Homo sapiens: one gene and its partners. The protein of the gene in region 4 interacts with the protein of the main gene of each other region in a pairwise test. Each region holds a gene or a part of one and is shown on either strand. Other genes may lie near its edges.

Region 1 (8,340 bases), on a different chromosome or scaffold from region 4:
GAGCTTTTAAGACAACCTACAAAATTATTGCAAATCCTGTGGTAAAGAGAGTATGCTGTAATAAAGACGTCTACTTTCCAGAGAACACTGGAACATATGAACTAATTTTTATTTACTTATTTACTACGGAGATAAACATTTCTCATGAGTGAGAAAAATCATAACTTATTATAGTTAAAAGGGACCTTAAAGGTCATCTAGTCCAATCTTTTTTTTTTTTTTTTTTTTGAGACAGGTCTTACTCTGTCGCCTAGGCTGGAGTGCAGTGGCGCGATCATGTCTCACTACAGCCTCGACTTCCTGGGCTCAGGTGATCCTCCCACCTCAGCTCCCACACTCCCACCCCTCTCCTCCCTCGTCTCTATTTTTTTGTAGAGACCGCGTATCGCCATATTGCCCAAGCTGGTCTTGAATTCCTGAGGTTAAGTGATCCGCCCATCTAGGCCTCCCAAAGTACAGAGATTATAGGCGTGAGCCACTGCACCTGGCCCCAATTTTTTTTAAAAAACAAAACAAGCCGGGCGTGGTGGCTCATGCCTGTAATCCCAGCAATTTGGGAGGCCGAGGCAGGCGGATCACGAGGTCAGGAGATCGAGACCATCCTGGCTAACACAGTAAAACCCCAACTCTACTAAAAATACAAAAAATTAGCCGGGCGTGTATTACCAGCTACTCAGGAGGCTGAGGCAGGAGAATCCCTTGAACCCGGGAGGTGGAGGTTACAGTGAGCTGAGACTGCGCCACTGCACTCCAGCCTGGGTGACAGAGCGAGACTCCGTCTCAACAAAACAAAACAAAACAAAACAAAACACCTTTCTCCTAGTAGCAAAACACTCTTATTCTAGACCTCAAAGCAACAGGTATAGAATCACTCTATACTGACTTACTTCAGTTTAAAATTACACAGGACTCATTATTCTAAAAGTGATAAAGGGGAAAAGGCAGCATTTATGCAGCTATTCCTATATGAACTATACTTCAGGGTAACCAATTGATGAGGGGAGCTGTTACCAATAATGGGACAAACTGAATTTATAGGCCTCTGATGTGATGCAATGAGAACACATTTATTCAGTATTCTTGCCAAAAATGCACAAACTGAATCTAACCAGGAAACATCAGAAAACTCAATTTGAGGGACAATCTATAAAATATCTGGTTTACATTCTTCAAAAATATCAAGATCATGAAATAAAGGCTAAGGAACTACTCTAAATTAAATGAGACTAAAGAGACATGGCAACTAATGCAATGTATGATGGGGGAGAGGAGCAGAGCCAGGAGGAGGGACCGCCATGAAGGATGTTACCCATTGGAATACGTGCTGTAGATGAGATGACAGTACTGTATCAATGTCCTGGTTTAGAAATTTATACTGTGGTAATGTAAGAGAATGTCCTTGTTTTCAGGAAATACATCCTATAGTATTTAGAGTAAGGGGGCATTACAAATGCACTCAAACATTTCCAGAAAATATGTGTATGTGTGTGTACATATATAGAGAGAAATTAATGATAAACCAAATGTGGCAAAATGTTAACAATTAGTGAATCTGAATCTGGGTGAAGGATATATGGAATTTCTTTGTACTATTCTTCACTATTTTATTTCTTTTCTTTCATTATTTTCATTTCAAATAAAAAGTTAAACATTGTAATTAAAACAGTTAAAAATGAAAAATAAAATTTACAGGGCATCATAAACCACTAGTATAATAATTTATTAATTTACTCAATTTAAGACGTATTTATTGAGCTCCAAATATGTATAAGATCATAGCAGGAACACAGAGATGTATCATATATGAATCTTGACTTCAAGAAGCTGACAGCTAGCTGGTCAGGCATGGTGGCTCATGCCTGTGATCCCAGCACTTTGGGAGGCTAAGGCGGGTGTATCACCTGAAGTCAGGAGTTCAAGACCAAACTGGCCAACATGGCAAAACCCTGTCTCTACTAAAAATACAAAAATTTAGCTGGGTGTGGTGGTATGCGCCTGTAATCCCAGCTATTTGGGAGGCTGAGGCAGGATAATCGCTTGAACCCAGGAGTCAGAGGCTGCACTGGGCCGAGATCGCACCACTGCCCTCCAGCCTGGGCGACAGAGCGAGATTCCATCGCAAACAAAAAAAAAAAAAAAAGAAAAGAGAGAGAAGTTGACAGTCCAGGAGGGAAGATGAAAAACAAACAGAACACAAGTTAGAAAAGGACACTCTCTACATCAGAAGACAAAGAAAGAGCCACGGGGCTGGGTGCAGTGGCTCACGCCTGTAATCCGAAACACTTTGGGAAACCAAGGCGGGAGGACTGCTTGAGCCCAGGAGTTCACGAACAGCTTGGGCAACATAGTGAGACTCTGTCACTACAAAAAATAAAATTAGCTGGGCATGGTGGCATATACCTGTGGTTCCAGCTACTTGGGAGGGTAAGGAGGGAGGCTCACTTGAGCCTGGGAGATCAAAGGTTCAGTGAGCTGTAATCATACCACTATATTCCAGCTTGGGCAACAGGGTGAGACCCTGTCTTTAAAAAAAACAAAAAGAAAGAGCCACGGCAATTCAAAAAAAGAAATAGCTTTAGTTACAGAAATCAGGACTAGTAGTATGGAAAGGTGAATACAAAAAATAAAAAAAAAAATTTAAAAGATAAATAAAAATTCATCTTAAAAAGAAGAAAGAAATCAGGACTGATATCATGGAAAATAAAATAGTATTTCACTGGGCCTTAAAACGTGGGTAGGATTTGGCCAGGCCCAGTGGTTCATGCCTATAATCCCAACACTTTGAGAGGCCAAGGCAAGATGATCACTTGAGCCCAGGAGTTTGAGACTAGCTTGGGCAACAAAGAGAGACCTCATCTCTACCAAAAATTAAGAAAAAATTAGCCAGGCATGGCAGTGCACGCCTGTAGTCCTAGCTACTTGGGAGGCTGAGCCTCGGAGATAGAGGCTGCAGTAAGCAGTGATCACACCACTGCACTCCAGCCTGGGAGACAGAGCAAGACCCTGTCTCAACAGCAAACAAAAAAGATGTGTAGGATTTGAACATATGAGATGGGAGGAAGGGAACTCCAAGTAGACAGGGTACTCTGTGTAAAGGCTAGGTAGCAGCCAGGTAGAGAAGGCATAATTGCCCAGCAATTACAAGAGGCAGTAAGAGACAAGGCCGAATCATTCACGAGCGATAACCAATTACTATGAATTAACTGTGATATCCATATTCTTGCTCAATAGTAGGGTTAAAAACATCTTCCTCAGATTATCACACCAAAAGCACAAGTTAAAAAATTAAAAACAAATTAGACTTTATGAAAATTTAAAACTTTTGTACTGTAAAGGACACCATCAAGAAAGTGAAAAGACAACACACAGAATGGGAGAACATATTTGCCAATCATATCTGACAAGGGACTTGTATTTAGACTATATAAAGAACTCTTATAATTCAATAATAAAAAGACATCCTTATTTTAAAATGGGCAAAGGATCTGAATAGACAGCTCTCCAAAGATACACAAATGGCCAAAAACCACATGAAAAGGTTCTCAACATTATTAGCCATCAGAGAAATAAAAATCACAACCACCATGACAGCAGGGTGCAGTGGCTCATGCCTATAATCCCAGCACTTTGGGAGGCCGAGGCAGTGGATCACTTGAGGCCAAGAGTTCAAGACCAGCCTGGCCAACATGGTGAAACCCTGTCTCTACTAAAAATAAAAAAAAATTAGCCGGGAATGGTGGTACATGCCTATAATCCAAACTGCCTGGGAGGCTGAAGCACGAGAATCGCTTGAACCCTGGAGGCGGAGGTTGCAGTGAGCCGAGATTGCACCACTGCACTCCAGCCTGGCGACAGGGCAAGACTTTGTCTCAAAAACAAAAACAAGGCCAGGCACAGTGGCTCATGCCTGTAATCCCAGCACTTTGAGAGGCCGAGGCGGGTGGATCATGAGGTCAGGAGTTCAAGACCAGCCTGACCAATATGGTGAAACCCCGTCTCTACTAAAAATACAAAAAATTAGCTGGGCGTGGTGGTGGGCACCTGTAGTCCCAGCTACTCGGGAGGCTGAGGCAGGAGAATCGCTTGAACCTGAGAGGCAGAGGTTGCAGTAAGCTGAGATGGCGCCACTGAACTCCAGCCTGGGTGACAGTGAGACTCTGATTCAAAAAACAAAAACAAAAAACCATCACTTCACACCCACTAGAATGCCTGTAATCAAAGATAATAATAAATGTTAGCAAGGATGTGGAGAAGTGGGAACGCAGAATGGTGCAGCCACTGTGGAAAACAAACAATTCCTCAAAATGTTAAACACAGAGTTACCATAGGACCGGGCGATTCCACTCACAGGTGGAAAAGAAATGAAAATATATGCCTACACAAAAACTTATACATGAATGTTCATAGCAGCATTACTCATAATAGACAAAAAGTAGAAACAACCTAAATGTCCATCAACTGAGTAACAGACAAGCAAAAACCACTGAATTGGTACACTTTAAATACGTGAATTGTGTGGTATGTGAATTATATCTCAACAAAGCTGTTTTACAACAACAACAACAACAAAAATACATCTTTCTTACCTTATGTTTAAATGGTAAACATCGCTGAAGTTTTACTCTTAAGCACAGCCCTGTGGAGGGAAAATCACACCTCCAATTATCTCTTTATTGCTTCTTATTGGTTCTTGAAAAAGCATACAACTGCGTTTATGTGCCCCCATACAACACAGTTGCTGAAAACAGCTTTGGCTCAATCCAGAGCAGAGCTCCTTTGAGGCTGGCACCACGCTAGGAAATTTAATATATAATCTTACATATTCCTTAGGATAATCCAATAAGCTATTACTAATCCCCTTCTACAAATTATTAAACCAAAGTCACAACGTAACTTCCTCAAGGTCACTGAGTTACAACAGTGGCAGAATTGGGATTGGAACCTATGACCACTGGAAAGCCCAGGCCATTTTTACTACATCAGTTGGCCTTCCAGCAAAAGTCAATTAACTCATTAAGCCTTTTTTTTTTTTTTTTTTTTGAGACGGAGTCTTGAACTGTCGCCCAGGCTGGAGTGCAGTGGCATGATCTCGGCTCACTGCAACCTCCGCCTCTCGGTTCAAGCAATTCTCCTGCCTCAGCCTCCCAAGTAGCTGGGATTACAGGCGCACACCACCACACCCAGTTAATTTTTATATATTTTTGGTACAGATGGGGTTTCACCATGTTGGCCAGGCTGGTCTCAAACTCTTTACCTCAAGTGATCCGCCTGCCTTAGCCTTCCAAAGTGCTAGGATTACAGGCATGAGCCACCCCACCCGGCCAATTCAATTAACTTTTTAAAATGCCCCACAACAGGCCAGGACACGCAAAAAAATAAAACAAGTCAAAGCCATTTTAAAAGGGCCACATAAAATCTCTCAAATTTGTAATCCTTTATGCCTGCAAGGTACAAATACAGTAACTTCTTTAAAACAAGTTCCACTGAAGTTCAGTTTATCATCCCATGCTAAGACACATCAACAAAACCTCAAACCATACAGCAATACAGCAAGATATAATTGTTAGACTACCTATCTTTTAGGGAGGTAGTAACTTGGTTTTGGTTTTCTAAGTACCATTTGGTTTTCTAAGAGAATTTTTTGAAAAATCCCAAAACAGGGAAAAGGATTAGATGAGATATAATGAGGTGGTGCCTGCCACAGGGTCTTTATTTACTTATTTATTTTTTTGAGACAGAGTCTTGCTCTATTGCCCAGGCTGGAGTACAGTGGCGAGATCTCAGCTCACTGCAACCTCTACCTCCTGGGTTCAAGAGATTCTCCTGTCTCGGCCTCCTGAGTAGCTGGGACTACAGAAGCACGCTACCACACCCACTAATTTTTGTATTTTTAGTAGAGACAAGGTTTCATCATGTTGGCCAGGCTGGTCTTGAACTTCTGACCTCAAGTGATCTGCCCGCCTCGGCCTCCCAAAGTGCTGGTATTATAGGCATGAGCCACCGCGCCCGACCTTATAGAGTCTTGAACACAGTAGTTCTATAATAAATATTAGAGAATTCTAAAGAAAATATATTATTTCCTTAAGAGGGTCTCTCTTCAGAGGATCTGCCTTAAAGCATATCTGGGAGAGTTCCTCTTCCCCTGGCCCCACCATTGTCTCCTTAATTTGTTATCTGTGTACTGTCTGAATATCCTCACGTATTTTAGTCACTATTGGTAGGTGTTTTACAATTCGCAAAGCACTTTTTTGAGCATCATTATCCTCAAGAGAGGTAGTACAGCATAACTGAGATACTTTGGGTTTCAAAAGTAGCTTCACTACATACTCGCTGTGATCCTGCATAAGTTACTTAACCTCTCTGAGCTTCAGTTTCCTTATCTGCAAAACAGGCATTATAGTATCAGCTGGGCAAGGTGGCTCATGCCTGTAATCCCAGCACTTTGGGAAGCCAAGGCGGGAGGACTGCTTGAGCCCAGGAGTTCAAGACCAGCCTGGGCAACGTAGCAAGACCCCATCTCTAAAAGTAATAATAATAATAATAATAATAAAACTTAAAAATATATATAATAATATCACAATATATAGGGTTGCTATGAGGAATAACCTGTTATGCAATGTGTTTAAAACAGTACCTGACACATAAGTGTACAATAATAGTATAAAAATAATTACTATAAATAGTAAAAAATAATAGTATAAAATATTACTATTTTATACTATTTTATAATTTTCATTTTACAGCCAAGAAACCAAGGTAGGTGATTTAACATTACTTAGCTAACAAGTGGCAGAGGTAGAACCCAAACCTACACCTTCTGACCTCCAAACCCTAAGACCGTTCCCATTGGACCACAGCTGCCTTCAGCCATTCTTATCTGGAATAAGTCACCACAAATGATTATCAACTTGTTTCCCTGCCTTACCCTCTTGTTCCCTTGGAGTCTTCCTTGTCAATCACTTACCAAGGTAACATTGAGTAGGTGATACTCTTACTCAGGCACCTTTCCAGGCTAGGACTACCTGCTCTGGAGGAATATCTGTTAACACATCAGACAGACGAAGGCTTCTCTCAAGTTTTCCAGCTGTGTTGACTGAACAAAACTACTATGATACACTATTATACAATTCTCTAAAAAACCAATAGGCCGGGTGTGGCAGCTCACACTTGTAATCCCAGCACTTTGGGAGGCCGAGGTGGGCGGATCACTTGAGGCTAGGAGTTTGAGACTAGCCTGGGTAACATGGAGAAACCCCGTCTCTATTGAAAATACAAAAAATTAGTTGGGCATGGTGGCACGCGCCTATGATCCCAGCTACTTGGAGGCCGAGGCACGAGAATCGCTTGAACCCAGGAGGCAGAGGTTGCAGTAAGCCAAGACAGCACCACTGCTTTCCAACCTGGGCAACAGAGCAAGACTCTGTCTCAAAAAAAAATAAAATAAAATAAAATAAAAATAAAAAATAAAAAGCCAATGGTCTTAGCTGAAATGCATAACGAAAGGGCTAAGACAAAACTTTCTACAGGAAGTGTACAGATCTGAAATATCAACTATAATCTAATGTTAGCACCCTTACAGAACAGTTTTTATTTCATGCACTCTCCTGATATTTGTCCACGTACACATTTTTCTATAACTGCAATCATGATGCAATTTGAACTTATTCAAGCTTTTTCATGTTTTTTTTCTTTTTTAAGAGATTGCTGGTTTCAAACTCCTAGGCTCCAGTGATCCTCTCGCCTCGGCCTCCCAAAGTGTTACAATTACAGGTGTGGGCCACCACGTCTGGCGAATATTTTCTTCTATAAAATTAGTTCCTTAACTCCTGCGTCAAACAGTATAAACTTCCAGATAGGGATTTACCAATATATACCATGAGGCTTCAAAATACTTACATAATCTAACCCAATTATTCCACGTATAGGAATTTATCCTGATGCAATAATGAGATATATAAAAATATTTATATAAGGCCAGGCACGGAGGCTCACCCCTCTAATTCCAGCACTTTGGGAGGCCAAGGCAGGCGGATCACCTGAGGTTGGGAGTTAGAGACCAGCCTGACCAACATAGAGAAACCACATCTCTATTAAAAATACAAAATTAGCCAGGTGTGGTGGTGCATGTCTGTAATCCCAGCTGCTTGGGAGGCTGAGGCAGGAGAATCGCTTGAACCTGGGAGGTGGAGGTTGTGGTGAACCAAGATCATGCCATTGCACTCCAGCCTGGGCAACAAGAGTGAAACTCCGTCTCAAAAAATAAATAAATAAAAATATTTATATATAAAGTTGTTCGGTCAGGCGCGGTGGCTCACACCTGTAATCCCAGCACTTTGGTAG
Region 2 (8,340 bases), on a different chromosome or scaffold from region 4:
AGCAACGAGACAGAAAGTTAACAAGGATATCCAGGAATTGAACTCAGCTCTGCATCAAGCAGACTTAATAGACATCTACAGAACTGTCCACCCCAAATCAACAGAATATACATTCTTCTCAGCACCACACTGCACTTATTCCAAAATTGACCACATAGTTGAAGTAAAGCACTCCTCAGCAAATATAAAAGAACAGAAATTATAACAAACTGTCTCTCAGACCACACTGCAATCAAACTAGAATTCAGGATTAAGAAACTGACTCAAAACTGCTCAACTACATGGAAACTGAACAACCTGCTCCTGAATGACTACTGGGTACATAACGAAATGAAGACAGAAATAAAGATGTTCTTTGAAACCAACGAGAACAAAGACACAACATACCAGAATCTCTGGGACACATTCAAAGCAGTGTATAGAGGGAAATTTAGAGCACTAAATGCCCACAAGAGAAAGCAGGAAAGATCTAAAATTGACACGCTAACATCACAATTAAAAGAACTAGAGAAGCAAGAGCAAACACATTCAAAAGCAAGCAGAAGGCAAGAAATAACTAACATCAGGGCAGAACTGAAGGAAATAGAGACACAAAAAAACCCTTCAAACAACCAATAAATCCAGGAGCTGGTTTTCTGAAAAGATCAACAAAATTGATAGACCGCTAGCAAGACTAATAAAGAAAAGAGAGAAGAATCAAATAGACGCAATAAAAAATGATAAAGGGGATATCACCACTGATCCCACAGAAATACAAACTACCATCTGAGAATACTATAAACACCTCGAAGAAATGGATAAATTCCTCGACACATACACCCTCCCAAGACTAAAACCAGGAAGAAGTTGAATCTCTGAATAGACCAATAACAGGCTCTGAAATTGAGGCAAAAATTAATAGCTTACCAACCAAAAAAAGTCCAGGACCAGATGGATTCACAGCCGAATTCTACCAGAGGTACAAGGAGGAGCTGTTACCATTCCTTCTGAAACTATTCCAATCAATAGAAAAAGAGGGAATCCTCCCTAACTCATTTTATGAGGCCAGCATCATCCTGATACCAAAGCCTGGCAGAGACACAACAACAAAAAAAAAGAACTTTAGACCAATATCCCTGATGAACATCGACGCAAAAATCCTCAATAAAATACTGGCAAACCGAATCCAGCAGCACATCAAAAAGCTTATCCACCATGATCAAGTGGGCTTCAACCCTGGGATGCAAGGCTGGTTCAACATACGCAAATCAATAAATGTAATCCAGCATATAAACAGAACCAATGACAAAAACCGTATGATTATCTCAACAGATGCAGAAAAGGCCTTTGACAAAATTCAACAACCCTTCATGCTAGAAACTCTCAATAAATTACGTATTGATGGCACGTATCTCAAAATAATAAGAGCTATCTATGACAAACCCACAGCTGATATCATACTGAATGGGCAAAAACTGGAAGCATTCCCTTTGAAAACTGGCACAAGACAGGGATGCCCTCTCTCACCACTCCTATTCAACATAGTGTTGGAAGTTCTGGCCAGGGCAATCAGGCAGGAGAGGGAAATAAAGGGCATTCAATCAGGAAAAGAGGAAGTCAAATTGTCCCTGTTTGCAGATGACATGATTGTATATTTAGAAAACCCCATTGTCTCAGCCCAAAATCTCCTTAAGCTTATAAGCAACTTCAGCAAAGTCTCAGGATACAAAATCAATGTGCAAAAATCACAAGCATTCTTATACACCAATAACAGACAAACAGAGAGCCAAATCATGAGTGAACTCCCATTCACAATTGCTTCAAAGAGAATAAAATACCTAGGAATCCAACTTACAAGGGATGTGAAGGACCTCTTCAAGGAGAACTACAAACCACTGCTCAATGAAATTAAAGAGGACACAAACAAATGGAAGAACGTTCCATGCTCCTGGATAAGAAGAATCAATATCATGAAAATGGCCATACTGCCCAAGGTAATTTATAGATTCAATGCCATCCCCATCAAGCTACCAATGACTTTCTTCACAGAATTGGAAAAAACTACTTTAAAGTTCATATGGAACCAAAAAAGAGCCTGCATCGCCAAGTCAATCCTAAGCCAAAAGAACTAAGCTGGAGGCATCATGCTACCTGACTTCAAACTATACTACAAGGCTACTAGCAGTAACCAAAACAGCATGGTACTGCTACCAAAACAGAGATATAGATCAATGGAACAGAACAGAGCCCTCAGAAATAATGCCACATATCTACAACCATCTGATATTTGACAAACCTGACAAAAACAAGAAATGGGGAAAGGATTCCCTATTTAATAAATGGTACTGGGAAAACTGGCTAGCTATACATAGAAAGCTGAAGCTGGATCCCCCTTCCTTACACCTTATACAAAAATTAATTCAAGATGGATTAAAGACTTAAATCTTAGACCTAAAACCATAAAAACCCTAGAAGAAAACCTAGGCAATACCATTCAGGACATAGGCATGGGCAAGGACTTCATGTCTAAAACACCAAAAGCAATGGCAACAAAAGCCAAAATTGACAAATGGGATCTAAGTAAACTAAAGAGCTTCTTTCTGCACAGCAAAAGAAACTACCATCAGAGTGAACAGGCAACCTACAGAATGGGAGAAAATTTTCACAACCTACTCATCTGACAAAGGGCTAATATCCAGAATCTAAAATGAACTCAAACAAATTTACAAGAAAAAAACAAACAACCCCATCAAAAAGTGGGCGAAGGACATGAACAGACACTTCTCAAAAGAAGACATTTATGCAGCCAACAGACACATGAAAAAATGCTCATCATCAATGGCCATCAGAGAAATGCAAATCAAAACCACAATGAGATACCATCTCACACCAGTTAGAATGGCGATCATTAAAAAGTCAGGAAACAACAGGTGCGGGAGAGGAGGTGGAGGAATAGGAACACTTTTACACTGTTGGTGGGACTGTAAACTAGTTCAACCATTGTGGAAGTCAGTGTGGCGATTCCTCAGGGATCTAGAACTAGAAATACCATTTGACCCAGCCATCCCAGCCATCCCATTACTAGGTATATACCCAAAGGATTATAAATCATGCTGCTATAAAGACACATGTACATGTATGTTTATTGTGGCACTATTCACAATAGCAAAGACTTGGAACCAACCCAAATGTCCAACAATGATAGACTGGATTAAGAAAATGTGGCACATATACACCATGGAATACTATGCAGCCATAAAAAAGGATGAGTTCATGTCCTTTGTAGGGACATGGATGAAGCTGGAAACCATCATTCTCAGCAAAGTATCGCAAGGACAAAAAAACCAAACACCGCATGTTCTTGCTCATAGTTGGGAATTGAACAACGACAACACATGGACACAGGAAGGGGAACATCACACACTGGGGCTTGTTTTTGGGTGGGGGGAGTGGGGAGGGATAGCATTAGGAGGTATACCTAATGTTAAATGACGAGTTAATGGGTGCAGCACACCAACATGGCACAAGTATACATATGTAACAAACCTGCATGTTGTGCACATGTACCCTAAAACTTAAAGTATAATTAAAAAAAAGGAAAAAAAAAAACGAGAAAAATAATTTTTTTTAAAAAAAGATGAATGATAATCACACCCAGAAAATCCTCCAGAAAGGATTTATTTTTACTTCTGGCAGGCAAGTAGACCAGACACTCGTAATCCCCGATCTCTGTCATTCAACTGCTATTGCAATGATTTAAATCAGGACTCTTGTCCCTATGGGAGCTAGATTAATTCTGGATCGCCCCTTATTCTCAAGGAACAGCCTTTCAGAGTCCCAACCAAATGCCAAGGAGTGTTAATAAGGGTCCTTCCAACGTGGCAGGTCCTGACTTCAATTTCTGTCCCCAGCCTTGTGAATCTGGCAAGAGCTCTGCTGAGAAACTTAGATAAACCTCCATTCAAACAAGCAGTCTTCCACTGCCAGAAAGAGGGTTTCTTAATCTCTCATTAATACCAGGTAACTTAAGGTTTGGCTACCTATACTGTTTCCAGATTTCCCCTTCCTTGACTAGAAGAGCAATGGGCTAGAAGTCTGAAGATCTGAGCTCTGATGTGTTGGTCAGTAACTGGTCCTATAACCTTTAGGCTAGATCCCTCAAAGTTCCCTTACCCTTAAATGTAAAATACATCTGGATAAAAAATCTTTCAGTTTATTCTTGCTCTAAAATAATTACTAACACCCCTGCCAACTCTTAGACAATTCTCCTGCGGATCCATCAAAGGCAGCCCAGTGACTCATTAAAACTCTCTATTTTCATGAGAACACTATAACAAACGAACTTAAACTACAACAGTAAAAATTTGGATTTACAAAGCAAGCTGTTAAACTTTAGAACTGTGGTCATTCACACTGCAAGTCCTATTATTTGTTGCCTTGGCTACTAAACCATGCAAAGCTGACGAGAACCCACCTATGGCTGAAAATAAAGAGAAAAGCCCAACCTAAAAGGAGAAAAGAGTCACTATAGGGCACCACTATGCAAAATGGCAAGCAGTACAGTTGACGCTTGAACAACATGAATTTGAACTACATGGGCCCACTTTTATGGGGCTTTTCTTCTGCCTCTACCGCTCCTGATACAGCATGAACAACCTCTCCTCTTCCTCCTCCTCCTGAGCTACTCAACATAAAGACAACGAGGATGAAGACCTTTATGATGTTCCACTTCCACTTAATAAATATTAGGTTGGAGCAAAAGTAATTGCGCGTTTTGCCATTACTTTTATATATTTATTTTATTATTATTATTTTTTGGAGTCTCACTCTGTTGCCCATGCTGGAGTGCAGTGGTGTGATCTCTGCTCTCTTCAACCTCTACCTCCCGCATTCAAGTGATTCTCCTGCCTCAGCCTCCCGAGTAACTGAGACTACAGGCATGCACCAGCATGCCTGGCTTTTTTTTTTTTTTTTTGAGATGGAGTTCCACTCTTGTTCCCCAGGCTGGAGTGCAATGGCACGATGTCAGCTCACTGCAACTTCCACCTCCTGGGCTCAAGCGATTCTCCTGCCTTAGCCTCCCGAGTAGCTGGGATTACAGGCACCCGTACCACACCCAGCTAATTTTTGTATTTTTAGTGGAGATGGGGTTTCACCATGTTGGCCAGGCTGGTCTCGAACTCCTGACCTCAAGTGATCCGCTTGCCTCGGCCTCCCAAAGTGCTGGGATTACAGGCATGAGCCACCGCACCCAGCCACGCCTGGTTAATTTTTGTATTTTTAGTAGAGACGGGGTTTTACCATGTTGGCCAGGCTGGTCTCAAACTCCTGACTTCAGGTGATCCGCCCACCTCACCCACCTTGCAATTACTTTTAATGGCAAAACCCACAATTACGTTTGCACAAACTGAATAGTAAATATATTTTCTTTTCCTTATAATATTCTTAATAACATTTTCTGTTCTCTAGCTTATTGTAAGAATACAGTATATAATACATATAGCATATAAAATATGTGTTAATTGACTGTTTATGTTATTGGTAAGGCTTCCAGTCAACAGTAGGCTATCAGTAGTTAAGTTTTGGGGAAGTCAAATGTTACACACAAATTTTTGACTGTGCAGGGGACCAGTGCCCCGACCCCCACATTGTTCAAGGGTCAACTATAAACAAACATGCCTGAGTCATAGCTCCCTTAAATCATTCCTTTTACGAAGAAGGATGCTGATGGTGTGTCTGGAAGCAGGTCAAAGCAGAAGAGAGTCAAACTTTGGCTTTTGGGTTTTCGAAAGCTAAAATTCTATATTTTCTTCAGCAGAAAAGAATACCAGAAGATACACATTCTAATTGTTTTCACAATGGACAAAAGAAACAGTGGTTGAAATTAATGACAGGCTGAAACAAAGTCCTACTTTCAGAAGCACAGAGAAGACCTAATGCAGTCACTTCATAACTCAGAGAACATTCTTCTGCACAAACTTATCAACTGCTGCCTAAGTTCCTCACTGCATCCCCTGCCACCTGCATGCACAAACCACCACTTCCCTGACTACAGAATGTACCTCTTCTCTATGGGAAGTGGAGTGGAACCCAGACATTGGTGTCTCTTGTGTAGTATCTCCCCTTCCCTGCAGTATCTGGATCTATCAAAAAGCAAAGGGATCCATTCCAAAAACAGTGCTACAGCCAACACCCCCAGAGGGCCTCATCACTAGGCTTTTTGATGTTCCAGTAACGTATCAGCTAGAAGCAACTGAACTCTAGGTCAGTCCTTACTTTCTGCAAGAGACCCTGTGTGTGGTAGAAAAGGTGCTAGCTGAGAAGCTATGCATGAATCCTAGCTCTGCCACTGTCTAGCTATGCTCATTCAGACACTCAAAATGTACTAAGAACCTACTACGGGCCAGACATCCTGCTGGGCATTATGATATAAAGGTGTCAAGACACAAAAGGTGCCTGCTGTTATAGAGCTAAAACTCAAAGAACACTTCCCATTGCCCCATTGTGCTAAATGATGGTGCCTACACCAAGTCATCTCTGAGGTTCTTTTTGACTATAAGGTGCTACAGTTTTACAATCTGAGATACAGCACTGGTTGGCTACAATATCTGTGTGGTCTTTGGCATAGCCTCCCTGGGCTTTAGTTTCCTTATCTATAAAGCAAACAGGTTCTATTTGGAAATGTCTCCCTTTACCTTATGCAGCCACAGTGGGAGGTTTCCAGACTCGCTCTGCAGTGAGTTCTTCTGCTGAACAGCCGCCCAGCAATATGAATCCACAAAGGCAGCCTGACGCCAGGAGAAAGAACTTGGAGAGAAACAGCTTATCTGTGTACCTAAGAAGCAAAACAGATAGTTTCCAATGAAAACACAGCTTACCTGGACTCTTGTCCCCATCTCACATGTTTTTAGTTTTGTCTAAGTTAGGGAGCACCAGGACAGGAGGTGGAGACATTAGGACAGAACTAAAAACAAACACCCAAGTTCATATTAAAACAAAAGATCACAGAGTGGTTTTGGCCAACACTGGTCATGATAGCAGCTTGGCCTCAGTTGGGGAAAAATTCTTAAAAGAAGTAGAACTACCATACAAAGAAAAAGGAAGCAGGAAAAGAACCAGAGCCCAGAATTCAAGAGGCAAGCGTGGAGAGACCTGGTTTAGTTTGGAGTAAGGATTGAGAAAAAGGAAAGGTTATGTGGGAGGGTCAGTGAGGCACCTGAATGCGGAAAATTGGACTAAAAAAACAAGTTCTTTTAGAACAAAGAAGCAAAGAACTATTAGCCTGAGGAAGAGAAAGCTGAAGGGAACATTGGTAATAGAACACTGGATGGGAAATCAGTGGTTTCCTACCTCCTGTAACACTAAAGAAGAAACAGGCTGAAACTGCAGCCCAACTGGTTTACATTTGGAAGGGAAACGCTCACGACTGCAAACCTCCCAACAGCAGATGGGCGGTAGATGGGGAATGGGAAGACCTGGGTCCTGGTGGGGCTCTACCGTTCACTCGCTCTTCTGGGAAGGGACTCTGGGACTTGGTTTTCTCCTCTGCAAACTGAAGATTACATCTCTCTGCAGATGCTACCGTCACATCTGTAAAACCTACCATCTGGAAGACTCTTTGTGCTCCTGACACACACAGGCCATGGAGGGAAACTGACCAATAGGATCGTAAGGCTCAGGCAGGGCTGTGTCCTCCCCTTCCCACCAGTAGCACAGGGGCTGGCGCTAGGCCTTGCCTGGCCCAGCCCTGATCCCCTGTCCCCACCTGGCACATTCAAAGGTGTGTGTGTCACAGGCATAGGGGTCAGAGCTAAGGCTCCATGACAGGCACACTCTCTTCCACATCCATCACAGCCTGGGAGTGTGCTCAGTGACTGGGCTCTGACATGAGTCATATTTAAATTTGACTCTGCCACTCTCAGCAGGGTGAGTCACAGCTGATAAGTCATTAATTTCCCAAAGCCTGGGATCTCTAAAATAGGAATGACATTAATAGTGTATCCACATTACAGATTTGTTGTGGTGAATACAAAAATTAAAAAAACACACAAAAAACAAAAAACAAAACTTGCTGCAGCACTTGCGAGGGTGTCTGGTTCCCAGAAGTTGCTGAATTAGTGTTACATTTTTCTAGATGAAGCAACAAGTAGATTCTCATATTGCCTTAAAGACTGGGATGTGCCTACCATTCTCCCTTCCCACCCTATGGAGCAATGATAGGGACAGTGGGAAGTTACGGAGCTGGATTTCCCTAATCCCTGGCACATAAAAGGCCTCGACACTCATCTTTGCCTGGGGAGGGAGTGGCCTTTATGCTTATGGTACAAGAGAGAAGTGATGGAGATGTTTTCAGGAGAGTAT
Region 3 (8,340 bases), on a different chromosome or scaffold from region 4:
TATCTGGAGACAGGAGAACTCAAGGAACCAAAAGCACTGTTACTCTAAGTCTCAGAAAAGGTTTTCAGTCAGGATATGGAGGCTCCTGGTCCTCAAGGGTGAACCACTTCACACAACAGATAAAACCATCATTTTAAAATTCAAAATGTAAGTGCAACTTGAGTTTAAGTTGCACTGCTCCATACCTCTAATAAACTCAGCTAGGAGCCAGGATACATGGTAGTTCAAGGCTTCCTAAAATAAGCTTGAAATTGGGGTACAGGGGAAGGGACATCCATTGGCTGGATGGACAGAGTGGTTGAGCTAAAGAGAGCTATAAAGGCTCGTGCTGGGAAAGAAAGCTGTTATGCTTAGACTTCTCTAGGTGAACTCAGAGTCTCAAAGAGGAAATGTTACAAATGTCACCCGCCAGCTTTCTGGCCAGTAAGCAGAATGCCAGGTTGCTCAGATTCACAGACATTTGCAAAACAGAAGATGTCTCCTAATATTATAGACTAAGAATTTGTTGTCCAGAGGAGCTGACCAGTTCCTCTTTCAGCATCAATATACATGATAGAAGAATGACTAGGTAAATTTAAAAAGACCTACATCTATATAGATATTGTAAGTTTGACAGTATCTGCCCAAGATCATTAGACACTATATAGTCAATATACTGTGAATTCCTTATACTATGTAATGAATGGGTTTGTAATCAACATATTTCACAGTGTACCACAGTTAACAGCATGCAGATAGTAAAATATAATGGTTTCCTGAAGTTATCTCTTAAAAAAGTATTTTAGTCCTTCAGCTATTCAAATAGATATATAACAATTGCATATAGAACGTAGAGAAAATTTTATTAAAAAATTAAAACTATTTAAAACCTGATATATGAAAATAGGCAACAGTGAGAAAAAAGCACTTTTGTGACAAATATTTAGCTGGTTTGAAAGACAGAACAAGGAGGAATCATTTACTCATAAAGAAGGCTCAAATAAGTTAAAACATGGATGTATTTTTAAAATGACCACTCTAGTAGTGAATTTAAAAGTCTTTTAAGGGTTAGAGTAATCTTTTTCATTAGTCTTGGCTATTTCCTCTAGTTCTGACAAGTACAGGCAAGAAAATGGCTACTCTCAAGTAAGGATTATTCTGAAACACGGTCTGGATTTAGAAAATAAATGAACATTAGGGAAATTTCCTTAATTAAGACTCTCCAAACCAGGTGTGGTAGCTCATGCCTGTAATCCCAGCACTTTGGGAGGCAGAGGTGGGTGGATCACCTGAGGTTAGGAGTTCGTGACTAGCCTGGCCAACATGGTGAAACCCCGTCTCTACTAAAAAACAATAATAATAATACAAAAATTAGCTGGGCATGGTGGCATGAGCCTGTAATCCCAGCTACTGGGGAGGCTGAGGCAGGAGAATCTCTTGAACCCAGGAGGCGGAGGTTGCAGTGAGCCGAGATCATGCTATTGCACTCCAGCCTGGGCAACAAGAGTGAAACTCCATCTCAGAAAAAAAAAAAAAAAGACTCTCTGGAGGTAAGGCACATATGACCTGGAGAAGCTGGTTGTGGTGTAAGGTCATCACTTTCTGCAAAGCATTTAGCCAGTCAGCGGTGTCAGGTGGCAGTTACAGCCCAGGTTCTTGCCTCTGGCCTGGGTGCTTAGGGGGTTCAGAATGAGTCAGTGGAAGTCAAAACAAGAGGGATCTAACCTACTACATAATAATCTAAAAATACAAACTTTTAACTATTTTAAGACTAACAGATTACCTTATATAAATCACCAATCTCTCAGTATTTACAAGCTAACAATTCTTTCACCTATTTTTATAACTGCTATACATTCTGGGAACACCACAATTGACATATGGAAAAAGAAAAGCCCTACCCTCTCTTTATGAGTTAAAGGCTAATTTGGTCCCCGACTTCATGCTTGGAAGGCTAGCGCTCATCTCTACACTAGCCTAGATGGCTGTGTTTTGCCCCTATGATTCCTTGCAGCATATCTATGGGCAGAGGGAAGACAATTGTTGAGTTTTTCTCAGCAGCAATGGTGGTCAGTGTCTGCAGGTATCGGAGCTGAAGGGCTGCAGGAGATTCAGTGATGACCATGGAGGCTTCTTTCAGAGCCCTGGATGCATTCATTTCTCCTTCGGCTGCAATAACCTATGGACAGGTGAAAGGAGGGGTTGAACTGGAGAAAACCTCATGGGGACACACAGCACTCTTCAACCGGGGGTATGTATACCTCAGGTGGTCCACAAAACTTTCTAGGGCGTATGCCAGAGTAGTTTTAAGAAAATCAATTTCTACATACTCAGTTTCCATATGCTTCTTTTTCTGAAACTGACTTGCCTGACTAGTGCCTGGATCAAGACATTCTCTTTTACTATAGCCTTTCTCCCATTTTCCAGGGTAACAAACAAAGGGATAATTCAAAATACTGTGCAGGATTGAGAAAGCAAGTAACTTTAATGACTGCAGGCAAATCCTTTTGCAAGTCAGCAGCATTTCCAATTCTCTGATGAGTACCTTACTAAACTGAAAGCTGACAGGTCATTATAAATATTTTTTGATGAAAGACTGTGATATGATTTTTTTAGCACATAAATTCAAAGTGCTAAGAACTGTATGATACTACTTTAAACAGAACTTCCATTTCCATCTACTTATTTATGTAAATAAGGTTTCAAAGTCCTTATAGCTATAAAAATGAAAAATAGGAATAAAATTGATGCTGAATCGTGTCTCATTCTAGCATTAAACAACAGCCATCTATACATGTACGATTTAATTCTCATTCATCTTATAAAGACAAGCATTTCTAGTAAAAATTGACTTCTGGTACTGGGTGCAGTGGCTCACACCTGTAATCCCAAAACTTTGGGAGGCCAAGGCGGGCAGATCACTTGAGGTCAGGAGTTCGAGACCAGCCTGGCCAACATGGCAAAACCCTATCTCTACTAAAAGTACAAAAATTAGCTGGGCGTTGTGGCAAGCACCTGTAAACCCAGCTACTTGGGAGGCTGAGACAGGAGAATTGCTCGAACCCGGGAGGTTGCAGTGAGCCGAGATCATGCCACTGCTGCACTCCAGCTTGGCTGACAGAATGAGAATCTGTCTCAAAAAAAAAAAAAAAAATTGACTTCTTATTTAGGAGAAATTCTGAAATGTTTGTAGAACCTTGTTTTTAGTTACAGGAAATTTTTAAAAATTAATTCTAACTTATGGACTAAATATGTTGCAGTATGTTAATAAAATAATTCATGACAAAATGTATGTTAGGAAAAGAATCTGGCGGAAGTGAAGATGCAATAAAAAACTTAGGTTTAAGAAGAAGAAGAAAAAAACAATAAAAAGCTCCTGACTGTTAAGAGTTTACTTACATATTTTTAATGGATAACTAAATCATTATTATTTCTCATTGGGTACATTTAAAAGAATGATGTTAACAGTTTTATTTAAAAATGTCAATATTTACAACATGCCAGGAATTATATTCTTGGCAAGTACATAAATTCAAGATGAAAAATTTTTACATGCCGATTTAAAATGTTTGATGGACTTTATAGTTTTTCTAAATTCTGTAAGGGGTTTCACAGGCAAAAAAGTTTGAAGATCACTCGAGTAGTAGACAGAACAGGAGTTCTGGAGTCAAATGGACTTGAGTTCAAATCCCAAATCTAACATTTACCAGCCGAATGTCCTCAGAGAGGTTACTGAACATCCTGAACCTCAGTTTCCCATTCTTAAAGCAGACTAACATGTACTTCAGAGGACCACTTGTGAGGAAGACAGAGAAAGTATATAAAGTGTTAAATGAATAAAGGGGGCTATTATAGAGGAATGGCAAGTGACAAGACCTGATTTTTGGGTCCAACTATGCTTTAATGCACAAAAGATTCAAGGTAGTTACTTTAATTCATAATCCTAGAAGAAGGAAAGGTATTAAGACACCATAATTATCAAGATTAAAAGTACAATTTCTCCAGGTTATTATCCTCACTTGAATCTTGAATAATTAATGGTCCATAATACTCCATGAATATCAGAATTGGAGGTGATGGTCTTATGCCCAGTGAGATTTCATTCACTCACACAGCAAAATTTGGGGGCCTTCTAGGGTTAATAAGCCCTGTGTAGGAAAAGCTAAGGATAGAGTGGAATCCCTAGCCTTCTTCAGCTCCTGGTCAGGTAGGGAAGGCAGACATGGAAGTAGATCATTTCATTCTAGTGTGATAAATGCTGACAGACATATGTACAAGGCACAGTGCAAGCAAACAGAAGAAAGCAACTTTTCCAGAGGGTGACGTGGTGAGGTTATAGAAGTTGAATATTAAATGATAAAATGTTTGCTGTTTAGAAAAAGATGAGGAAGAATATTTTGGGCAGAACACATGAAACGGTACTGAGGTATAAAAATGGTATATTCCAGAAAACTGTCAATGGCTGAATACTATGGCAGGAAGAGGGGAAAGGTGGGGGATGAATGGGGCCGGGTTCTGAAGGGCAGTGAGGGCCAGGGTGTTTGGTCTTCATTCTGTAGGCAATGGGAAGCTGCAGAATGATTTTAAGCAGGTAAGTAAACTCCATCAGATCTAGTTTGAAAAAGCTCTCTGACAGATGTCTGAGGTTAGAAGAGAAGGCAGTGAAAGCTGCTAGTGGAACTGCTTTAGAGTGGCCGGTGCGATTCATAGGTGGTGGGGACAGAGAATGAAATGGTTTGGGGAGCTATTCTCCCTCCCCGAAGGAGGGCGAATCAGTGGAATTTGGAGACTAGGTAGGAGGAGGAAAGGGGGACACAGGCTGAGACCCAGGTTTCCAGGTTTTGGTTGCATAGATTAGTGCCATTAATGGAGATAGGATACAGAATATAGTACTCACTGAGAGAAAGGATCCAGCTTATAGGATAAAAACCTTAATTTATCAAAGCCACACATCATGTCCTGCCTAGGTCTGTGAGAAGGGACAAGTGCCAGCTTTGCTCAAAGAAAACCACAGAACTGTATTCCAAGGTAGGCACTACAGAGAATACATCAGAAATCCCCTGCTATGAGAGCAGCAGGCTCTCATTTTTTCCATATCATCTCAGATGTCCAATTAGGCACTTTTTTCTTTGGACATGGACCAACTGAAAAGATATCTCATTTCCCACCACCAATCAATACACAATCGCTTGGCTGAGAAGCCAGACCCACCGGGCTGGGCACACATTTTGTTCATAGAAAAGCCACACTGAGCAAGCTGCCAAAGATGTAAACAACACCACCGGCTTTGTCTAAATACAGGCCAAGTACACTCCGTTGATAGGATCTTAGAGAGCAAAGCAAGCTATTTGTGGGTGTGCACGGCTTTTGTCGAATGTGCAGTAATCTCATAGCAATCAACATTTCATATTTATAGAACATCATTTTAAAGTCTGGCATTTTCATGTATGTGAAATTGGTGCTACCTGTCCCTTCTGCAGACCAGGTGGTCTGGGCAGAGGAAAAGGCAGAGAAAGGTGATCTGTATTTCTGCACTCCATCCTCTCAATTAATAGACTTCTACACCCAGAAACATGAGCCCAAAAGCATGTGCCAGGTGTTTTTCTGAGAGTTATGAAAAGGAAATAAAAGCTGATGCAAACACAAAAGATATTACATTTCAGGCCACTAAGAGCTGGTCTAAACACTTTAAAAACCAAACCTAACATACAGAGAAACACGTAGGAGAATCTGTCCTCTTCTGTGACCGGCTTCTTTCACTCAAATTATGTGTGTGAGCACTTACATTCATTCTCTTTGCTATGTAGTATGCCTACATGTGAATAAACCAGACTTCATTCATTCAGCTAGGAATGGACATTTGGGTATTCTACAGTTTGGGTCAATGTGCTGCTGTGAACATTCTAGTACATGCCTTTTGGTAAACATATGAGTGCATTTCTGTTAGATTCATACTTAGGAGTTGGAGCTGCTGGCTCATAGGGTATACAAATGTTCAGTATGAATAGACATTGCCAGACTGTTTTCCACAGTGGTTGTATTAAGTTACACTGCCACCAGCAGAATATGAGAGTTCTAGTTCCTCTCTCACCCACACTTGGTTCTTTTCCGTTCTTTTCAGGCCATTCTGATAGCTGTCTAGTGTGACATCCGCTTATAATGTGAATTTGCATTTCCCCGATGGCTAATTAGCCTAAGGAATTTTTCTATAAAGTCTCTTAATCTTTAGATTATTCCACTCTATCTCACCTTTCCTGTGCAATTTATTTGTTGAAGAAACTGTGACCCCCCTATTTTCCATGAGAATTTCAATACAATAAGCCTATGGTTGTTGCAGGGTTACTGTATTTTACAGAAGGGCTAGGCTCATTGTGATTCTATGTGTGAACTCCAAGACAGTCACTGCCCAGGTTCATGAGACTGCTTCTAGACTAACCCTACAGCCCCGTCCAAGTGGGAGCATGGCAATTCAGAATTCTAAGCGGTTTCTTCTATCTTTTCTTACTGTTATAAAGGGAAGATAGAAATTTTCTTTCCAAACTCTTAAGAATGCTATGGAAGAGGCTCATAGCCCATCCTGGGAAGTCAGTACTAGAGGAGGCAATGAGGAGCAGAGGGGAATTCTAATTTCCACTGCTACTAATCAACTGTGCGACCTTGCGGACGTCACTTAACTTTTCAGAGCTTCAATTTTTCCTTTGAATAGTGGGATGGCAAACAAGTTTCATTTTTTTTTAAGTTTTTATTATTATTAATTTTTTATTTAATTTAATTTTTTTGAGAAGAAGTCTTGCTCTGTCGCCTGGGCTGAAGTGCAGTGGCGCAATCTCAGCTCACTGCAACCTCCACCTCCAGGGTTCAAGCAATTCTCCTTCTCAGCCTCCCCAGTAGCTGGGATTACAGGCGCCTACCACCACACCAGGCTACTCTTTGTATTTTTAGTAAGGACGGGGTTTCACCATGGTGGCCAGGCTGGTCTTGAACTCCTCACCTCAGGTGATCCACCCACCTCAGCCTCCCAAAGTGCTGGGATTACAGACGTGAGCCACTGTGCTTGGCCTCAAGTTTTGTTTTTTAGAGCTAACTCTAAGCAGTTGAGGGTTGTTACCCAGAGTGCTATAGAAGGGTTCTGAGGCCAAGTCTAAGCTCAGAGGAAAACAGTGCTGTGGTTAATTACTAGCATGGGAATAGCAGGATGGAGTGCTAGCATCTGGGCTAAGTGTTTGCCACCTATGGAAGATAATCTCTGAGGATCCTTTGGGCTCTGACATTCTACGTAGTATATGTATGGTACATTCTACTATTCAATCTGGTTTGGAAATGAGGCTTTTGCCTAATAACATATTCTAGTTAAAAGCAATTCCTAATTTTCAAAATAAGGAGATGATAGGGCACATTTAATAACATCGTAAACATAATTTAATCTTCTAAACGTAACAGTTTTGAAAGAAAGCACTAGAGGGTTCTGTAGTACTACCAGGTTATCATCACAAAGCAACAATCATCATACCAGGAAAACCTAAACATTTTGGTTAATGCAAAATTCTGAAGTCGCATGTCAAATGAGCTACTATCCTATTTGATGCTGGCTAAGAAATTATAGTGACCAGTTTGTGGCTTAAAGGGCATCCTAAGAAAAGAACAGCGTTCTGTGGTCAGCCAGTGATGACCAGCTACTACTATTTTCTAACAACAAATTGGTTTGCTCCTTGTGTCTTGGGAGATTTGTCAAGTCCACAGCAACTCCTCCTATGAAAACTGCTCTTCTTCTTCAGCCCATTCACAGGCATAGGGCTGTGGAACCATATTATTATGCTATCTTTGCACTTTGACCAAAGTTGGACCAAAAAGACTGTCTCTTCTGTGAATGTGGAATTAGGGCTGGTCTGTGTTCTTTAGTGTTCACCTGGCAGACATCTAAACCTGGGAGCTAGACATTCTCCACCACAAGCTATCTACAGTGAGATGTGGCACAGGAAAGGGAATGACTAGTTCCCTGAACTGCCTTCTGGTTCCAATTTTGGTGAGACTTGCCCCTACTTCCTACCTTTGGGTTTGGTGAGATATCCCTGAAATTTTACACATTATCATCTTTAAAGATACTCTTTTCTAGGTTAGGTTAACAAATATTTCCTCAGTGCCTCCCAGAGGGGCCATGCCACCCATGCAGGGTTAAGACATAGGCAGATGATGATGAAAAGAAGGAAGAAAAAAGGCAGATGTCAAAGTAAGAGAATATAAACAAGAGGAAAAGAGAGAATGAGGAATAGGAAACAGTAAAAGGGAAAAAGAGCCTGAGAAAAGAAACAGAACAAAAAAGAAGCCAAAAATAAGTAAGAGATGGGTGGTATGGATGGAATG
Region 4 (7,183 bases):
CTGCCTCCTGGGTTCAAGAGATTCTCGTGCTTCACCCTCCCGAGTAGCTAAGACTACAGGCACCACCATGCCCAGCTAATTTTTTTTGTATTTTTAGTAGAGACAGGGTTTCACTATGTTGGTCTTGATCTCTTGACCTCGTGATCTGCTCGCCTCAGCCTCCTAAAGTGCTGGGATTACAGGTGTGAGCCACCGAGCCTGACCTGGAAGTAACTCTTTTAAAGATAAAGTGGGAATAAACTTTTATTGGAAAATGTTTCATTTTCCTTTGCTCTGCCTTTTGGGATTGTAAGTCTCTCCCCATCAACCCGGACTGATTTCCATTCCATTTTCATTTAATCCAGGTATCACAGCTCCCAAAGTTTTTCTAGTCCCACATGTCCACCGAATTGGATACTTGCCAGGCCTTTAAATGGCTACCACAGCTACTACTTCCAGGCTCCAAGATGGCTACCAGGCCAGTTCTATGAATAGTGCCTGGATAGCAGTGGAGGAGAGGCTTGGAATGGGTCTTCCACAGACAGTGTCTAGATAAGAGGGTTTTTGTTGTTGTTGTTGTTGTTGGGATGGAGATTCACTCTTGGTGCCCAGGCTGGAGTGCAATGGCGTGATCTCGACTCACTGCAACCTCCACCTTCCGGGTTCAAGCGATTCTCCTGCCTCAGTCTCTTGAGTAGCTGGGATTATAGGCATGTGCCAACACTCCCAGCTAATTTTTGTATTTTTAGTAGAGACAGGGTTTCACCATGTTACCCAGGCTGGTCTCGAACTCCTGACCTCAGGTGATCTGCCTGCCTCGGCCTCCCAAAGTGCTGGGATTACAGAGGTGAGCCACTGCACCCAGCTGGTCTTTTGTTTTTAATTAAAAAAATATATATATTAGGGGGGCTCACTGTGTTTCTCAGTCTGGTCTCGAACTCCTGGCCTCAAGTGAGTCTCCCACCTCAGCCTTCCAAAGTGCTGGGGTTACAGGTGTGAGCCTTGATGCCTGGTCTAGATAAGAGGTTTTAAATGGAGAAATTAGAGCACTTCTAGGGAGAGGAGCAAACTCAAGTCTTTTATTGTGGGAAAGGGGGAAACACAGTGTTCCCCTGGCTCAGAAGGGAAAGGAGGGCCACGGGTGACACCTTGGGAAGCTTTCTTTTCTTCATAGAATGACTAACAGGAAATTATGAGGGGTACCCTCATTTTCTTTTTTTCTTTACTTTCTTTTTTTTTTTTTTTTTTTTTTTTTTTTGAGACGGAGTCTTGCTCTGTCACCTAGGCTGGAGTGCAGTGGCACGATGTCAGCTCACTGCAACCTCCGCCTCCCCGGTTCAAAAGATTCTCATGCCTCAGTCTCCCGAGTAGCTGGGATTACAGGCACGTGCCACAACACCTGGCTAATTTTTGTATTTTTAGTAGAGACGGGGTTTTACCATGTTGGCTAGGCTGGTCTGGAACTCCTGATCTCAAGTGATCCACCTACCTTGGCCTCCCAAAGTGCAGGGATTACAGGTGTGAGCCACTGCACCCCACCAGGGTACCCTCATTTTCTATGACCTCCAGAAATCGAGGGATTCAGTTTGTGAATCCTTCCTTCCTCTCCTAGTTCCTTGTGCAATGCAAAGCCTCTTTAGTGTTCACCTGCAGAGTCGTGCCCAGGCTGTAGGAGACTCTGGGTTTGGAGAATCATGGCACCCTCATCCTGTCATTTTCATCAGTTGTGTCTTCAATCCTTTCTTCACCCCTCCACACTCAAACCTCTCTCCTTCTAGAAGCAGATTTTTCCTTTTCCTTCCTCTTCTCCTCCCTTACTCCCCTACTTTTCCCAGTCCCCCAAACATACCAGGCTCAGAGCTGGATTCATTCAGCATTTATTGTAGCAAAGAGTGGGTAGGGACAGGAGCTCTAGGACTGGCCAGTGGGTGTTCTAGAGGCCAGCTGGGGTTGGAAGACAATGGTCTGGACACTTCACTGGGTGGCAGGCTGTGTTCCAAGTTCCACGAAATAGCTCAAGAAGTTAACCAGTTCCGTTCCAGCCTTCTTGATCAGGGGTGTCAGCTGCTCCTTTGACTTTTCAAAGTAAGACCTGGATAGGTGAGGGGATTAGAGTTTAATCTGAGGGACCCTAGGCACTGGCAGGGGCCTTGGTGGTGGTGGGAGGTCAGAGCAGACTGACTCAGGTCCCCAAACTCTAGTGCCTGGTCCATCGCATGGCAAAGCCCCTAGGTAGGAATAGAGTCAAGACCTTTGCTAGGTAGAGGGACAGACTCTAGAGACTGAAATTCAAGGCCCAGTTCTTGCTGTTCCTCTCTATCTAAGAGACGTGTGGGATCTTTGGGTGATGAAATACTTTTTCTCTGCAATTTAAGCCTAATCTGCCCTAATCCCCACCCCTGGGTTCAGACTTCTGTGGGACCTCTCATCTTCCCTTCTTTCTCTCCACAGTTCCACAGCCCCTGAACCCCTTGCCCTGAGACTTACTTGGCCTCGGCCTGAAGCTCTGGGCTCTTGACCTTCTCCATCAGGTCCTTGCCATAGTCAGTCACGGTCTGGAAGTACTGAGAAACCAGGCTCTCCACACATGGCTCCTTTGCCTGTCTCCGAACCAAAGCTCCTGCCCACACACACACACACACACACACACACACACACACACACTCTTTTCAGCTGGGTCCACAGCAGTGAATCCTGGCCTCCTGCCATACCTCTGCCAGTACCCACCCCAGCTCTCTGCCCCCTCCCCAAAAAGGTATCCAGCCAGATCTTTGGATGGGCTTTCTGGGCTTTAGAGAGGGAATGATCTTCCTTTTGAGCCCTTTGGTTGCCAGACCTGGATATAAGAGCACAGGCAGATAGGTAGCTATAACCACCAGCACATTCTCCCTTTTGGCCCCCTCTCCATATCACACCCACCTTCAAGGCTGCAGATGGTGAGGAGTAGCACAGTTGCTGCGAGCAGCTTCATGTTGGTAACAGTGGGGAGGGCGGCCTAGGAAGAGGGTGGTGGGGGTTTGGGGGACACTGAAGCCAAATGGGCTTCAGCTCCTCCCCAGGGATCTCCCTACCTGCTGCCCATTCCAACCTGGCTCTCTCCCTCTCCACAACTGAAGCCCAGGCCTCTTTGGATGCTGCTCACACATCTTGCCTCCTTATCTTACCTAGCCAGCGTCTCTGTCCTTGGTGTCTGTGCCTGCCCTGGCTGGAGAGGAAGGGGCTATATACCTGTCTGTTTACCCACCCCCTGTCAGGTGACAGGGACTATGGATGGGCCCAGTGGGGCAGGGATTATGTGAGGATAAACAAGTTGGAGAAATGGGGGAGGAGAGGACAAGCACATGGAAGACTCATGGTGATGGGGTGAGAGGCAGGGGGTACAGCTCTTAGTGGAGGCTAAGGGGGTACACTTCAGGTATATTTGAGGTTCATTCTTTTGAGATCTGAGGTCCTTGGACTTGAGTGCAACAGGAAGCAGGATTCCAAGTTATTTCTCTGGAAAGCTCTGACATATCAACCCATGGAATACCATCAACCCATCATACCATGGAAAGCTCATGGTGTCTTTATTCCATTATGGGTAGATCTCATCTCTCAACCTTATCCCACTTTACTGCAACTTGGCAGAGAGATATTGGGGAGCAGAAGAAAGGAGAAAGGAATTGAAATCAGGGACAGGGTTGAGGGCTATGGGGGTTAGGGGAATGAGGGTCGGGTAAGAGGGCAAGTGTAAATGATCTTGTCCGTTTTTGAGTTAATGTGTAATGAGACGGGGAGAAAACAGGAGAGCCCAGAATGACCTGGATGCTGATCACTGAACATACCCTACCCCCAGTAAAACAAATTCAGAAAACAGCTTCCGCCCGTCCCCTCCCAATGGAGGGCTCTGGCAGGAAAAGAGGTGAATAAGAGGCTTCTACCAGGGTAAAGGTTGAAGGCACCTGGTCATTTGATCACCTTATCAGTTCTAGGCAGTGATTAGCCAATATTGAGTCAGCAGGGGCAATAGCCCTGGCCCTTGTCTCACTCCTGTTGGGGGTGGGGGAGGGGGAGAGGTACATTCCCAGGTTCAAAGCATTTGGGTGAAATCAGTTAAATAGATATCAGAAGCTTTTGTATCTTTCACCCTTTTGCCCCCCAAGCATACTCGCTGAGTATGTGGAACATTCCTGAGGGTGACAGTGGAGGCGCAAAGCTGATGAGGGAGGTAGTGACCAGAGACCAAGAAATCTTTGTTTTTTAACTTTTGTTTTAAATTCAGAAGTATATGTGCAGGTTTTTTTGTTTGTTTTCCTGAGACGGAGTTTTGCTCTTGTTGCTCAGGCTGGAGCGTAATGGCATGATCTCGGCTCACTGCAACCTCCACCTCCCGGGTTCAAGGATTCTCCTGCCTCAGCATCCCAAGTAGCTGGGATTACAGACATGCGCCACCACGCCCGGGTAATTTTGTACTTTTAGTAGAGACGGGGTTTCCCCATGTTGGTCAGGCTGGTCTTGAACTCCCGACCTCAGGTGATCTGCCCGCCTCGGCCTCCCAAAGTGCTAGGATTACAGGCATCAGCCACCGCCCCTGGCCTATATATGCAAGTTTGTTACACACGTAAACTTGTGTCATGGGGATTTGTTGTACAGATTATTTCATCACCCAGGTATTAAGCCTAATATCCATTAGTTATTTTTCCTGATCTTCTCCCTCCTCCCACCCTTCACCCTCCAAGACCAAGAACTCTTACTCCATTTTCAATTATTCCCCTGTGGAGCGCTTAGTGCTTGAGGTCAGCCCTTTGGCTTGTCCCTGGTCCTGGGATGGAGTGCCTTTGGGGGCCAGGCTCCATATTCCTAGATTTTATTTGCCAACTCTGCCTTGGGACTCAGGGAAGGAAGGGTTAAATACAGAAAGCAGCTGTTTCAGCGAATAGTTCTGCTAGAACTTACTCCTCTGCGCCAAACTCTCACACCCGTTTCCATTCCACCAAGTGGTCAAGAGCGGGGACTTCGAGAGATGTAGACCTCCAGAAGAGAAGGGTGGGTCCCTGTTCTAGGGAGTGCTGCGCTTAATGAGTAGTACTCATTTGGAGGTGTGCTGTGGAGGGCTGTGAGGAGGATTTCCCATGGGTTCTTTGGAGAGAAGGGAGCGATAGAAATGAACCAGGGTTCCAAAGAAGTCTTCATAATCGTTCTTTCTGCCACCCTTCACACTATGCCAGTCTACAAGCTGTAGTTCCACTTTTCTCATGGATGAAACTACATGGGTGGAAGGAGCTTCAGTGGCCCAAGCTACAAGATGCTCCCTCTAGTGTCTTGTACGCTCACAAGTTTTTTTCCGACCTTGGAGAGGCCTAGTGATCTAAAGCCTTCCACTTAAGTCTAAGGGGCCACCAATCAAGTCCTGCCCGCCTCTGCAGCTCCAGGGTTGAAGCTCTTGGGCCGTCAGACCTGCCACTCATTTTCTTCCTCCCTTCCCATTGGCCCATGGTAAATAGCGAGGCTTTTTTTTTTTTTTTTTTTTTTCATTGATTGGGCGGGGCCCAATCAGGGTTGGGTTGGGTCTTTGACAGCTTTCTTTGCCAGATTCAAAGATGGCGCTTACGGCCACGCTAAGAATGCAGCGTGAAGCTGCAGTTCTGCCATCACTCAAGATGGCTGCCCCCATCAAGATGACCGGGGTGTGCCGGGGGGAAAGGGGCAGCATGATGGTCTGAGATGGTAAGGGATACTGCACCATTGCGGGCCTGGTCTTGGGGCCTGGGAATGAAGAATAGAGAGGCTAGGGAGCTAGGTGAAGTCTGTGGTGGGGGCTAGGATCAGAGAAAGGGAGAGAGGACAAGGGTGACAAGTGGGGGTGAGAGATCAAAGATGGGGCGGGAGTGTGCCTAGGGTTGTCTCTCCATGAGTGCTCTCCTTCCCTACTCTTCCTGTTCCAGGTGTAGCGTCGGACCATGTGGAAGTTTCTGAGGCTGGGGAGCCGGATAATGGGGGGTGGGGCCCGTTGGGGGGTAAAGGGGCAATAGCGTCCTTTCACAGGCTAACCTCGGCTCTTCCCAGTCCTCTGGACTAAAATGGGGAACACATTGGGCCTGGCACCAATGGGGACTTTGCCCCGCCGGAGCCCCCGCCGAGAGGAACCCCTGCCCAACCCTGGGAGCTTCGATGAGCTGCACCGTCTATGCAAAGGTGAGAACTTGGCACTTGGGTGTCTCAGGATGAAGGGGCAGAGGAGTGGAGGGTCTTGAATGCCGGATGTCCGGCGATGGGAGCAGGAAAGGGGAGATCATAGCTGGGTCATGCAGCCTCAGGGAGGATCAGGTGCCCAAATGAAGTGGAGCATTTCATTGCAGGACTTGAAAGGAGGTTAATTCCTCCAAAGTGTTCCCTATGGGATTGAAAGGGGAGACTATCTTTTGGGGTAGGGGTTCTTTGTCTGTGCTTATTCCTTCCCTTCCCCTACCCCCTTCAGATGTATTCCCAGCACAGATGGAGGGAGTGAAGCTCGTTGTCAACAAGGTTCTGAGCAGCCATTTCCAGGTGCTCCCACTTCTCTGGCCCCTCCTTACTATTCCCCCTTTCCTGTCCCTGGATCATCTTCTCCTTTCCTTTGTACTCCAGCCCTAGCCAGTCTATGTGGGACAAATGAGGGAGGATGTGGGGTTCTCTTTACCTCCGTGCCTGTGGGACTTGTTGCTTTTAATCCGATGACCTTCTCTGTATATGTTGGAATATTTAGGATTCTTGAGAGGCCCTCTGGATGGGGAAAAGACTAAGGGTGGGATGAGGGATTGAAGTGGAGCAGGAATGCGCTTTTCTCCACTGAATCCTCTTTTCCTCAGGTGGCGCACACTATACACATGAGTGCCCTGGGCTTGCCGGGATATCACCTCCATGCGGCCTATGCAGGGGATTGGCAGCTCAGTCCCACTGAGGTGAGGGCTCCACACACCTGGGTCATCTCCCTAAAAACCAATCTGGGACCCAGGTCTGGAGGAAGAGGAATTGTGTGTGTTATGGGGAGGAATGGGCCGTAACCTGATTCTCTGTGTCTTTTCTGAATGAGAGAGGGTAGAGAAACATTTTCTGTGAAGAGCCCAGAGTGTGTCTTTGTGACTCCACCAGGGGGCGCTGTGCACTCTTAATGAAGTTCTATATTTGGGTTTAGGCTGAGTGGTGCCATCCGGCTCAGCCTTACTACTGTGTACACCCTTCCACA

The links.
Region 1: the proteins of APOA2 (region 4) and CIAO2A interact in binary tests that used the Homo sapiens proteins (3 or more experiments, as listed by UniProt).
Region 2: the proteins of APOA2 (region 4) and PANX1 interact in binary tests that used the Homo sapiens proteins (3 or more experiments, as listed by UniProt).
Region 3: the proteins of APOA2 (region 4) and STOM interact in binary tests that used the Homo sapiens proteins (3 or more experiments, as listed by UniProt).

What each region holds. Positions count from the first base shown.
Region 1 is NC_000015.10:64,076,516-64,084,855, forward strand, and holds part of CIAO2A (cytosolic iron-sulfur assembly component 2A), read right to left. Parts: intron 4,637-8,340; coding exon 4,587-4,636; intron 1-4,586. UniProt on the Homo sapiens protein: Component of the cytosolic iron-sulfur protein assembly (CIA) complex, a multiprotein complex that mediates the incorporation of iron-sulfur cluster into extramitochondrial Fe/S proteins.
Region 2 is NC_000011.10:94,151,965-94,160,304, reverse strand, and holds part of PANX1 (pannexin-1), read right to left. Parts: intron 6,815-8,340; coding exon 6,675-6,814; intron 1-6,674. UniProt on the Homo sapiens protein: Ion channel involved in a variety of physiological functions such as blood pressure regulation, apoptotic cell clearance and oogenesis.
Region 3 is NC_000009.12:121,339,251-121,347,590, forward strand, and holds part of STOM (stomatin), read right to left. Parts: intron 2,159-8,340; coding exon 1,952-2,158; 3' UTR 392-1,951; coding exon of another isoform or gene 371-391; 3' UTR 1-370. UniProt on the Homo sapiens protein: Regulates ion channel activity and transmembrane ion transport. Regulates ASIC2 and ASIC3 channel activity.
Region 4 is NC_000001.11:161,220,452-161,227,634, forward strand, and holds APOA2 (apolipoprotein A-II preproprotein), read right to left. Parts: upstream 3,178-7,183; 5' UTR 3,144-3,177; intron 2,975-3,143; 5' UTR 2,951-2,974; coding exon 2,899-2,950; intron 2,600-2,898; coding exon 2,467-2,599; intron 2,072-2,466; coding exon 1,954-2,071; 3' UTR 1,841-1,953; downstream 1-1,840. Other genes in the region: TOMM40L (mitochondrial import receptor subunit TOM40B), read left to right, coding at 6,039-6,153, 6,437-6,504, 6,807-6,899. UniProt on the Homo sapiens protein: May stabilize HDL (high density lipoprotein) structure by its association with lipids, and affect the HDL metabolism.